Homo sapiens: one gene and its partner. The protein of the gene in region 1 purifies or fractionates together with the protein of each later gene. This does not show direct contact. Each region holds a gene or a part of one and is shown in the gene's direction. Other genes may lie near its edges. The genes, in order: LDAF1 and FAF2.

Region 1 (5,839 bases):
AGTAAGTATTTAGTAAATAATATAGTCTCTACTGCAGTTAGTCAACTCTGTTGCCGTAGCATGAAGGCAGCACAGACCAGGAAGTAAATGCATGGGCATGGCTGTGTTCCAGTAAAACTTTATTTACAAAGACAGGCAGCTTGCTGGATTTGGCCAACCATTGCTCTATAAGAACTGATATCCTGAGTTTTGTTTTTCTACAAAACAGCCCTTGAACTCCTTACCAAAAGTTTATCCTGTTATTATTCCTATGTTGAAAAATAAAGGGTGAAGTGGGTATAATATAAAATTGCTCAAGGATGGCTCTTATAGGATTGCTTAATTGAATCAACCCTGGAGTCATAATCACCTTTTCAAAAATCGCTTTGATCACTCTTAGTCTTTTGTTTGTTCATTTGTATTTTACTTATAAAATGGGGTCTTGCTGTGTTGCCCAGGCCATTCTCAAACTCCTGGCTTCAAGCAATCCTCCCCCGTTGGCCTCTCAATGAACTGGAATTATAGGCGTAAGGCACTAACTCACTCCCAGTCTTAAAAGATGTAAAAGGAGAAATATTGGCCTATTTTGCATATTGAGGGTGATGCTTCTGAAATAAAATTCCTCCCTGCCTCTGAACGCTGCTGTAACAGGGTGAGTTCTTAAAGATTATACCACAGGAAGTAGCAGAATCTGACTCCCTACTTATCAATGAAGAAATTGAAAAACAAATCCAGGATTTGTACTTGATCTCCTTATCTTCCCCTATTGCTGCCAACCAATTGTTTCCACGTGGGCAGAGGTTCTTAAGCTTTTTGTTCTCAAGTCCCATTTTACCTTCTTAAAAATTATTGAGGCATCTGAAGAGATGTTATTTATGTGGTTAATTGTATTAATAGCACTTTGGGAGGCCAAGGAGGGAAGATCACTTGAGGCCAGGGGTTTAAGACCAACCTAGGCAACATGGCAAGACCACATCTCTACAAAAAATACAAAAATTAGCCAACTGTGGTGGTGCGTGCCTGTAGTCCCAGCTACTCAGGAGGCTGAGATGGGAGGATCATTTGGGCCCAGGAGTTCAAGGCTGCAGTGAGCTGTGATCACACCATTGCACTCCAGCCTGGGCAACAGAGCAAGACCCTGTCTCAAAAAACAAATGAAATGAGCTGAAATATAAAATAAATAACTAACATGACATAAAACTATATACAATAAAATAAATTAAAATAAACATAACATAAATTACATTAAATCAAATTAAATATTAGCTGGTGCATGCTTGTGGTCCCAGCTACTCAAGAGGCTGAGGAGGGAGGATGGCCTGAGCCTGGGAGGTTGGGGGTGCAGTGAGCTATGATTGTACCACTGCACTCCAGCCTGGGTGACAGAGCTAGACTCTGTCTGGAAAAAAAAAAAAAAAGAATATTAATAATTATTTCTTTTTAAAAAATTTTCTTCCTCATTGTTTCTTGTTCTGAAATAATTATTCTATGAGAAATCATAGCATAAATTTTAAAAATATCTATTCATTTAAAAGGAACAATATTACCTGTTGATATAAATAACAAATTTTAATGAAAAGTAACTATATTTTCCAAAACAAAATGAAATTTGTGAGTGGTATTATTTTACATTTTACAGATCTCTTTCATATCTGCCTTAACAGTTGTCAGCCGGCTTCTCGTTTGTGTGGCTGCATTCATTCTGTTGTGCTATGTTGTCCTGTTTGGAGTATTTGAAGAAGACCTAGCATCACTAACATGCGGTTGGGAGAGGGAGGCAAAGCTTTTTTAAACGATTGTGGATATTCTATGATAGTCCACCAAAACTCCGTAAGTGATAGTTTCTTAAAGGTTAGCTGAAATGTGAAATTTTTCTACTCTATTTTATTGAAATCTTCAGGTCTGTGTCACACTTTAAATTGATCTTTATCATGCATGATTTTCTAACTTTACCCATTGGTCAATGGGAGAATATCAATTCATTGAGTCATGCAGATCTTCCAAATATATTTTGAAAAATTGCACTGTTCCCTTGTGAGAGAATGTGAGTGAAAAAGGCATATAATAGGTCATGTTATTGTGAACATGGTTTTCATCTGAGAACCCTTGCATTAGCGAATTCTTTTTTTTTTTTTTTTTTTTGAGACGAGTCTCACTCTCACCCAGGCTGGAGTGCAGTGGCTTGATCTTGGTTCACACAACCTCTCCCTTCTGGGTTCAAGCAGTTCTTCTGTCTCAGCCTCCCGAGTAGCTGGGATTATAGGTGTGCACCACCATGCATGGCTAATTTTTGTGTTTTTAGTAGAGGTGGGGTTTCACCATGTTGGCCAGGCTGGTCTTGAACTCCTGAGCTCAAGTGATCCACCCACCTCAGCCTCCCAAGATGCTGGGATTATAGGTGTAAGCCACTGTACCCAGCCTGCATTAGTGAATTCTTTATAACTCAAAAAAAGATAACTCCCTCATTAAATGATCGAAAGCATGGAATGGGGGGAAGAGGAGCTATATAATTTATTTCATGATTTAATGGAATTTTGGCCCTAAAACATAAAAGATAATACAGCTTAAATTTTTAAAAAAGAAAAGAAAAAGGAAACAAAACTGTAAGTTTCCCTTACATATGAAACCCAACTAAACAATATTTAGATCAAATACACTGACCTGCCTCCTATGTAGATCAGCTAGCCTCTGAGGGGCAAAACCACACTGCTTGGTTATGGAGACTGCAAGACCTTCCAGGGCCTGCAGCTCAGGAGAAGTAGGGGCCCTGGGCAGCTGTGTTTATTTGCAGAGCCACCAAACTCACTACCCCATATCATAATCTTCCAAACCAGCCTGAGCATAACTAGCTTCCTTACATCTTTACTAAGAAAAGGAAAGGCTTCTTTCTTAGTTTTTTGTTATCAGGGAGGAATGGTTTAGGTGGCAAATAATGAAAAAAACCAAAGTAGATACTAGTTTAAACACACAGGGAACTTTTTTTTATTGCTTAATGAAAAACTGGAGACAGCCCAGGGCTGGTGCAGCCAGTGTGGTATCAACATACCAGGCACCTTTTGCCTTCCTGTGTTGCTATCCTTAGCCCATTGGTTTCCTACCTTATGGCCACAAGATAGCTGCTGCAGCTCCAGATCTACCAGCTACCTTCAAGGCAGCAGAAAAGGAGAAAAAAATGGAGTCTGACCCTTTTAAAAATGTGAATAAAATATTTCCCAGGACCTCTCACCACTATACTTCAAAAGACTTCATTGACTAGAACTTTGTCAGATGGCCGCTGGTTGCTGTTCTCCTGATTGTAGGTCTCACGAGATCTGATGGTTTTATAAAGGGCATTTCCCCTGCACATGCTCTCTTGCCTGCCGCCATGTAAGAAGTGCCTCTGATCTTCCTTTGCCTTCCACCATGATTGTGAGGCCTCCCCAGCCATGTGGAATTGTGAGTCCATGAAACCTCTTTTTCTTTATAAATTACCCAGTCTCAGGTCTTTATTAGCAACATAAGAACGGACTAATACAATCCTCCCCCGAACTCCTTTCCATGGAAGGTGTCAAGAAACTAATTGAAATCAGAAGATATGGTCTGAATCCCCGCCCTGCCATGTTTTCAGCTGTGTGGTCTTGAACGGGCTGCTTGACTTCTCTGATTTCAGTTTTTGTCCATTGGTAAAATAGACAAAATGGCTACTCTTAATCTACCATTCTCACTGGGTTGTTGTGAGGACACAGATAATTAAGAAAAACATAATAAATATCCAAATTAGAAAATGGAAAAGGGGCCGTAACCCTACTCCTAACCTGGTCATTTTAACCTCCTGTGCCCTCAGTTTCTTCATCTGTATAATGGACATAGGCCTGGTGTGGTTGCAAGAAGCAGCTAAAAATCAGGAAAAAGAACATCATGTATTCAGCTATGCACACTTCCAACGTTGCTCTTTACTGAGGCCCTAGAGCTAACGATCTCTTCTTGTTATCCGACAGGCCACTGACACAGCAAAACACCAGTTGTGACTTTCTGCCAGCCATGAAGTCTGCAGAATTCGAGGGGCTTTACCAGGAATGAGTGACTGCTCAGAGGCCGGGCTTCTTTTCAAGTACTGCTGGATCATACTCACCCCTTGGGATTATGGCTTAGAAGAAGGGGGCTGGGTAGGCAAGCACTCCTTGGCTGTGTCCTCTCGCTTTTTCACTTACTTGTAGGATCCCGCAGCAGCCAATTTAGGGATTGTGTTGTTCTTGTGTTGGTTCCCATGTAAAGAAGCAGCAGAGAAATGCGATGGTTCAACAGCTCGCCCTGCCCCAAGTATGCAGACTTGACCTTGGCGGGGTCCTGGGCTTCTAGAGTCTAGCCCGTTGACCCCAAAGCCTCAGGGCTTATGTCCAACGGTCCCATTGGGAGCAACAGTGATTGTTTATAGTTTTTTGTTTTCAGAAATGAGGGCAGCTGTTAATTTTTTCACTCATGTGAAACAAAATGAAAAAAAAAATCCAAAACAGAACAAGCCCTTCTGTGGTATTTGCTTTTTATCAGAAAGAACAGCAACATTTGGCCTCTCCAAGTTGGAAAATAGAGTCCAAATGTAACTTTGTGGCCAAGAGTATTTTCAAAAAAGTCTAAAGGTGTAGTTTCCACTGTAACTGTTGAGTACTGTTAAGTACTGTTAATCTTTTACATATTTGCACTTGGTACTGTTGTATTGTTCTAAAGAGCTTGTCCTTTAAGTAATTTCTTTCTTTTTTTTTTTTTTTTTTTTTTGTGACGGAGTTTCCCTCTTGTTGCCCAGGCTGGAGTGCAATGGTGCAGTCTCGGCTCACTGCAACCTCCAACTCCCAGGTTCAAGTGAGTCTCGTGCCTCAGCCTCCCAAGTAGCTGGGATTACAGGCACCCGCCACCGTGCCCGGCTAGTTTTTTTTTGTATTTTTTTTAGTACAGATGGGGTTTCACCATGTTGGTCAGGCTAGTCTCAAACTCCTGACCTCAGGTGCTCCACCTGCCTTGGCCTCCCAAAGTGCTGGGATTACAGGCGTGAGCCACTGTGCCCAGCCTAAGCCATTTCTTAAAATAAAAATGCTAAAGGACTAGTAAGTAAAAATAAAACTTCCTATGGGATTTCCCAGTGGAATTACTGAGTGGTTTATTTGCGTGGCATTTCATTAAATATTTATTTGGGTGGGCTTTTTTTCTTTACTCTTTTTCCCTTCTGCTCCATACATCAGACCTGCCTATTCCTCTGTCGATTTCATGACTGGTGCTGGGTAATAGGGATTTTTTTAGTTGCTCGCAATAGACACCCAATTCCACATTACTTTAAAAAGAGGGGTGGTAGGGAGAAGGATTAGTTTCACTCAACCAAAAAGCCAAGGGGTAGATCTTGAGGTGCTGCTGATTCCAGGGGCTCAGGTGGTGTCATTAAGCATCTCTCACCCCTCATCTCTCAGTATAGCTTTCCTCAGTGTGAGCTGCTTTTGCAGGCAGGCCCGCCACCCCTTTCGGAGGTCCCAGGAGCTCCATCCTGGGCAAGAAAACTGCTTTTTTCCAACAGTATATACAAATATTCTGGGTTTGGCTCTGATTGGATAGACTTGGGTCATGTGAGCGACCCCAGACCAATCATGGTGGCTAGGAGGATGGGATATGCAGATGGGACAGGGCTGGGATGGTGGCCATTCAAGAAACAGGGGAGGCGATAGATCAGCCCACTATTAATATAACTATTAATATTAACAGTTACTGTTTATTGGATGTTTCCTTCATTCATACAACTGTCTGATATTATCTCTCTATGCTATCTACCCAGCTGGGTTCTGCAGCTTTAATAATGAAGAATGCAATGGTCTCCCTTCTGAAGTTTTCTTTCTAATGC
Region 2 (7,000 bases), on another chromosome or scaffold:
TTTTTAAGTAGAGACGGGAGTCTTGCTATGTTGTCCAGGCTGCTCTCAAACTGCTGCCTCAGAGGTTGAGATTACAGTGTTGAGATGAGTTGCCTCAGTGTTGAGATTACAGATGTGAGCCACCACACCTGGCCCCTTAACTCTTTTAAACCTTTTAATATAACAGTGTAAAGGGTTAATCTTGTTCATTTTAATAATGAAGAAACAGGTTCTGAGAGGTCAAATAGCTTTCACAAGTAGTAAGTGGTAGAGATTTAGAAATTTATATCCACAACCATCTTCTGTGTAACTTAATGGAGAAGTCAAGTACACACATGAATAATGGGTATGCGATATATATAGATATATATATATGTGTATATATGTATATTGTATATATACATATATATACGTGTGTGTGTGTATATATATATACATATATATATACACACATATATATATATACATATATATATATACACACATATATATACACATATATATATACACACATATATATATATATATATTTTTTTTTTTTTTTTTTTTTTTTTTTTTGAGACAACATATCTCTGTTGCCCAGGCTGAAGTGCAGTGGCGTGATCATAGTTCATTGCAACCTCAAACTCCTGGGCTCAAGTGATCCTCCCACCTCAGCCTCCTAAGTGGCTAGGACTAGAAGTGCCTGGCTAATTTTTGTCTGTTTGTTTTTGAGACGGAGGCTTGCTCTGTTGCCCTGGCTGGGGTGCAGTGGTGCGATCTCGGCTCACTGCAGCCTCTGCCTCCCAGGTTTAAGCTATTCTCTTGCCTCAGCCTCCTGAGTAGCTGGGATTACAAGTGCCTGCCACCATGCCTGGCTAATTTTTGTATTTTTAGTACAGACAAGGTTTCCCCGTGTTGGCCAGGCTGGTCTCGAACTCCTGACCTCAGGTGATCCACCTGCCTCGGCCTCCCAAAGTGCTCGGATTACAGGCGTGAGCCACCGGACCTGGCCAGCAGGTAACATTTATTAAGTATCTACTATGCCTTAGGCATGGTGTTAATGTATAACTATTATGTTTAATCCTTACAGCAGTTTACAAAGTACCATAGGTGGTATGCATAATGAAGCAGATCTATTGATGTATTTACTCAAGGTGATTAAGCTACTAGGTAGTGGAATTCTAGTGGGTCTAGATCTGGACTTGATGGCTGAGTTCTTACTAATATACCTTGCTACTTTGGAAGAGGAATAGAGTTTCAACATGTGTTGGGCAGAATATTCAAAGCTAAAGAAATAGCTTGCACAAGGTAGGGAGATGGGAAAGTGAAGTGTCTGTGGTGATGAACTGAAGAGTATTGAAAGTGGACAATAAGACTAGAAAGGTAAATTAAAGCCAGATTTTGGAGGCCTTTCAAAGCTGTTCACAATGTTTAAACTTTAATCTGTAGATGAGGGGAGCCATCAAAGGATTTTTCAACTAGGGAGTGACACTAGGTTTCAGGTTTGCTTCATTAGCAGTATGGAGTATGTGTTTGGAATCTCCACAGGGGTCAGTACAGAACAGGATGACACTGCTAGGAGTTGGTTCTCAATATGTTTCTTCATTTGGTATATTGAAATCAGTAAAAGTAAAATATTTTGGAAATCTCAGGTTTCCTGTATTTCAATTTTTTTATGATGTTATTTGGTTAGAACTCCCCAAGGCATTTTATTTCATATCATGTTTCTCAGCCCATTTGATATCTTCCAGGATTTTTCTACAGTTCTCCACTTCTGTTTATTTTGGAACCAGTTGAATATGAATAACTATTGCAGACAATTGTTTTCAGCTATTTCAGATGGGAAAGAATAAGGACATAGGTTTTAAGGAGAGCTAATGCAGGTATGTGGAAGGTTACTTTTATTGGCGTTCATTTTCCCAAATTTCCAAATATAGCAGACTCTCCTAGTGTCTTGGTTTACTGCCTCTAGGTTGCTGTTTGAACAACTGGAGAAGGATGACATGGACAGAGAGAAGGGGGAATTAAAGGAGTTATGCAGGCCAGCAGAGGAAGAAATGATCCCTTTTCTGCTTGCACAGGAGGAAGAAATTTATGACCCTCATCCTTTTAAATGATAGCCTGAACGCTGGGCTGTAGAATCAAATTTATAAGTCATTTTGAAAATCTTTCTTTTGGCTTCACCTGACTATATTACCTAAAGGAAAAAAAAACACATGGTGCTTTTTGTTCATGTATTTAAAACAGAACATACAGTGGTCCATTTGAGGGTTTTTTGCCAGAGAATTTGGCACTGTTGAGAAAACAAGAGCTTTGAAAATCCAGGCAAACATGACTTAACTTTTCAACAGCTTATGGTGAGTTCTGTGATCTTGAACAGGTTCTCACTTCTTTGAACCTCTTTCATTTTCTATAAAATGGAGATACTGGCCGGGCGCAGTGGCTCACACCTGTAATCCAAGCACTTTGGGAGGCCGAGGCTGGCAGATCACGAGGTCAGGAGTTCAAGACCAGCCTAGACAACATGGTGAAACCCCGTCTCTACTAAAAATACAAAAAAATTAGCTGGGCGTCGTGTCAGGTGCCCATAATCCCAGCTACTCGGAAGGCTAAGGCAGGAGAATTGCTTGAACCCAGGAGGCGAAGGTTGCAGTGATCCGAGACCGCACCACTGCACTCCAGCCTGGGCAAGAGCGAGACTCTAAAAAAAAAAAAATTGGAGATACTATTATCTAGTTCACAACATTCTTTTTATTTTTTACTTTAAAAAATCTAGTAGGCTGGGTGCCATAATCTCAGCACTTTGGGAGGCCGAGGCAGGCAGATCACTTGAGGCCAGGAGTTCGAGACCAGCCTGACAAACATGGTGAAACCCCGTATCTACTGAAAATATAAAAATTAGCCAGACATAGTGGCATGCACCTGTAATCCCAGCTACTCGGGAGGGTAAGGCAGGAGAATCACTTGAATTCTGGAGGCGGAGGTTGCAGTGAGCCGAGATCGTGCCACTGCACTCCAAGCCTGGGCAACAGAGTGCGACTCCGTCTCAAAATAAATAAATAAAAATAAAAATACAAAAAAAGTTAGCCCAGTGTGGTGGCACAGGCCTGTAATCCCAGCTACTCAGGAGGCTGAGGCATGGGAATCACTTGAACTCAGGAGGTGGAGGTACCAGTGAGCCAAGATCGTGCCACTGCACTCTAACCTGGGCAACAGAGCCAGATTCTGTCTGAAAAAAAAAAAAAAAAAAAAAAAAAAAAAAAAAATCTAATAATACATGCTTGTTGGAAGTTAGCAACATACAATTGTATTTTAAAAAGTAATCAAATCTTATTTTATTTCCCCATTCTAATTCCAGGTTTGTTGTTTATCTTTGTGTATTTTTGTCTTCTGCATACACAGCTTAATGTGGAAGCTCTCTTAACCTTAACCTTCACTTGACTGATTAATTGGAGCAGATATCCTCCTTTTCCTAAACTCTATTCTGTAATATGTTCAAGCATTTCTGCAAACTCTACTCTGTAATGCACTCAAGTGTCTCACCAGTCAAGTTGTATTCCTGACAAGAGGCAGTTATATTTGCTCCCAAACTAGTGTGTGCTGGTTATGTTTGTCACATGTGTTTAATTAAACACTACATAAACCTGTAAAATACCAGTGCAAAAAGAGTTTTCATCGATACGAAAACTAAATTAAAAGCTTTAAACAGGCTCTGTCTGGGGAAATTGCTAAAAAAAAAAATTGTTGTTTAGTTAGGTGTGGGCAAGTTAACTGTAAATGACTTAGGGAGAAATCATTGAGATACAACATTGTACACTTACTGCTTGGCAAGTGTTTAAGGTTGCACTACACTTAAGGAAATCAAATCAGTATGGGTTATGCTAAAAAGATCCCAGCCTGGGCAACATGGTGAAACCTCATCTCTACTAAAACTACAACAAAAAAATTAGCTGGTCGTAGTGGCGCATGCCTGTGGGCCTGTGATCCCAGCTACTTGGGAGACTGAGGTGGGAGCATCACCTTAGCCTAGGAGGTGAAGGCTGCAGTGGGCTGTGATTGCACCACTGCACTCCAGCCTGGGTGACAGAGTGAGACCCTGTCTCAAAAAAAAAAGTAAAAAATAGCCAGGCACAGTGGTGCACGCCTGTAATCCCAGCACTTTGGGAGGCTGAGGTGGGCAGATCACCTGAGGCCAGGAGTTTGAGACCAGCCTGGCCAACATGGTGAAACCCCATCTCTACTAAAATACAAAAATTAGCCAGATTTGGTGGCGGGTGCCTGTAATCCTAGCTACTCAGGAGGCTGAGGCAGGAGAATTGCTTGAACCTGGGAGGCAGAGGTTGCAGTGAGCCAAGGTCGCACTAGTGCACTCCAGCCTGGGTGACAGAGTGAGACTCCCTCTCAAAAAACTAAAAATAAAAACTAAAGAAGTTCCAAGGAGTGCTAGTGGATTCATTCCCTAAAGAAAACGATAGGCTTTTATCAGAAACTTATGTTCATGTGAGTACTTTATGTTAAAATGAAATATTTACATAAATATTCATTTATGTAAAAATGAAAACATGTAAAATGTTAAAATGAATATTTTTATTACTTTGACTTCAGTTAATTGATTAGTTATGGGTCTCATTCTCATTGGGTAAGAGAACTTCTGTCTTTGTCTTATAGAGATATGATTATATTATACTTAACTCTGCATAGCATAGGTAAGTAGTCATGAAGACTGACTGGGTTTGTTTGATTGAGACAGAGTTTTGCTCTTGTTGCCCAGGCTGCAGTGCAGTGGTGTGATCTCAGCTCACTGCAACCTCCACCTCCTGGGTTCAAGCAATTCTCCTGCCTCAGCCTCCCGAGTAGCTGGGATTACAGGTGTGTGCCACCACACCCGGCTAATTTTTGTATTTTTAGTAGAGATGGGGTTTTGCCATGCTGGCCAGGCTGGTCTTGAATTCCTGACCTGAGGTGATCCGCCTACCTCGGCCTCTCAAAGTGCTGGGATTACAGGCGTGAGCCACCGTGCCCGGCCCAAAATATATTTTTAAAACTTAAAATGAACAACTCAATCAAAAGGTAGGGAAAAGATCAGAACAGACAACTCACCAAAAAAGATATACAGATGGCATGTAAGCATATGAAAAGATGCTCAAATCTTTAAGGATTTGAGGTCCTTAAGGAATTGCAAATTAAAACAGCAATGAAACAGGAACTCTCCTGAGCTCAAGCAGTCCACCCCTTGGCCTCCCAAAGTGCTGGAATTACGGGTGTGAGCCACTGCACCCAGCCTCAACTGGAATTTCTGTTCCACTGGTCTTCCCCTATATATGCCAATATAACACTTAATTATAGAGGCTTATGATATATTTTGATCTGGAGGAACACCCCTGCCTCCACTCTGTTGCTCTTTTTCAGAGTTTTCCTGTTTATTTGCTCCTCTAAAAGAAATTTGAAATCAACTTTTTAAAGTTGAAATTTTATGAAATTTGTAAATGAACTTCAGGGGTTGTAGTTGACATCTTTATGTTGCTGAATCTGTTCAAGAACATAGTTATATCTTGGAAAGGTTTTGACATACTTACTCAGTAGTGTTTGCTGGCCTCCCTTTTTTGGGGTACTTCTTTATTTGACAAGTACAGACACTTATTATCAAGTTGGTTCAAAATGCGTTATTTTTTCAGAGTGGGCTGGGCATCGATATTTATGAACTCCTCTAAGTATTTAAGAGGAATATTTCTGAACCTTGCAAAGTAGTATACATTCTGATTACTCTGAGTAACAGATTACCTTTACAGCAGATAGTCTTTTAGAAGTAGGTCTTTGAGATGGGTATTGATAAAGATTAGTATTTTTTGTTTTGTTTTTTTGAGACGGAGTTTCGCTGTTGTCCCCAGGCTGGAGTGCAATGGCTCAACCTTGGCTCACTACAACCTTTGTCTCCCAGGTTCAAGTGATTCTTCTGCCTCAGCTTCCAGAGTTGCTGGGATTATAGGCGCCCACCACCACTTCTGGCTTATTTTTTTGTATTTTTAGTAGAGACAAGGTTTCACCATGTTGGGCAGGCTGGTCTCGAACTCTTGACCTCAGGTGATCCACCTGCCACAGCCTCCCAAAGTGCTGTGATTACAGGCGTGAGCCACTGTGCCCGGCCATAAACGTTAATTTTGTCATTTTTATTTTGGACCATCTGAGGATTATTTCACATATTCAAGGATTCTAGTTGTCGTTTCTCCAACATTGTATTTTTGCTTAAAATTAGTATCAAAAATGAAATAGTCATAAAACTGATTATTTGATTTGAACTGTTTTCAGGGGTGTGTGTGTGTGTGTGTGTGTTTAATACTACTGTTAGTGAGAGTGCCAGAAGTGATGAATAGCAGAAATCACCGTGAACACTTGGGGGGCCTGTGTGTGGGCCTTGGACTTTTCCACCAAGGAAATTATGAAAACTTTCTCACAGTCCTGGAATAAATTTGAAAGAGAACAATTTTTCATACTAAATACTGGGGAATATTTTTAAATGTGTGTTTGTAAATTCTTATTGGAGTTAAAGTCACAAAAAGTCACAGTCCTTAGTTAACCCTCTTGTCATATGCATTGCCACTGCCTCAGTTTATACTTCATTTCTCCTCTGGACTAAACTTGTATAACTGGTAGCCCACATTTAAAGTCTTCTCAATTCAGCCTTCCTACTTTTTCCAGAATAATATTTCTATTCTCTTTCTCTTCTCTTTTCACTCCTCTTCTCCCTTCTCTTCTCTTCCTTGACAGAGTATCTGTCGCCCAGGCTGGAGTGCAATTGTACAGTCTTGGCTCACTGCAGCCTCCGCCTGCTGGACTCAAGCCATCTTTCCAGCTCCCCTTCTTGCGTAGCTGGGACCACAGGCACGTGCCACCACGCCCAGCTAATTTTTGTATTTTTAGTAGAGATGGGGTTTCGCCATGTTGGCCAGGCTGGTATTGAACTCCTGGCCTTAAGTGATCCACCTGCCTTGGCCTTACAAAGTACTGGGATTACAGGCATGAGCCACCACGTCTGGCCTCA

The links.
Region 2: the proteins of LDAF1 (region 1) and FAF2 purify together in Homo sapiens (affinity purification with mass spectrometry; 3 studies listed by BioGRID and IntAct, with this or other methods). This does not show direct contact.

The regions. Positions count from the first base shown.
Region 1 is NC_000016.10:21,175,519-21,181,357, forward strand, and holds the end of LDAF1 (lipid droplet assembly factor 1), read left to right. Parts: intron 1-1,618; coding exon of another isoform or gene 1,619-1,640; exon of another isoform or gene 1,641-1,643; coding exon of another isoform or gene 1,644-1,716; exon of another isoform or gene 1,717-3,278; coding exon of another isoform or gene 3,279-3,294; exon of another isoform or gene 3,295-3,414; intron 3,415-3,956; coding exon 3,957-4,038; 3' UTR 4,039-5,098; downstream 5,099-5,839. UniProt on the Homo sapiens protein: Plays an important role in the formation of lipid droplets (LD) which are storage organelles at the center of lipid and energy homeostasis. In association with BSCL2/seipin, defines the sites of LD formation in the endoplasmic reticulum.
Region 2 is NC_000005.10:176,451,385-176,458,384, forward strand, and holds part of FAF2 (FAS-associated factor 2), read left to right. Parts: intron 1-930; exon of another isoform or gene 931-1,844; intron 1,845-1,933; exon of another isoform or gene 1,934-3,613; intron 3,614-7,000. UniProt on the Homo sapiens protein: Plays an important role in endoplasmic reticulum-associated degradation (ERAD) that mediates ubiquitin-dependent degradation of misfolded endoplasmic reticulum proteins.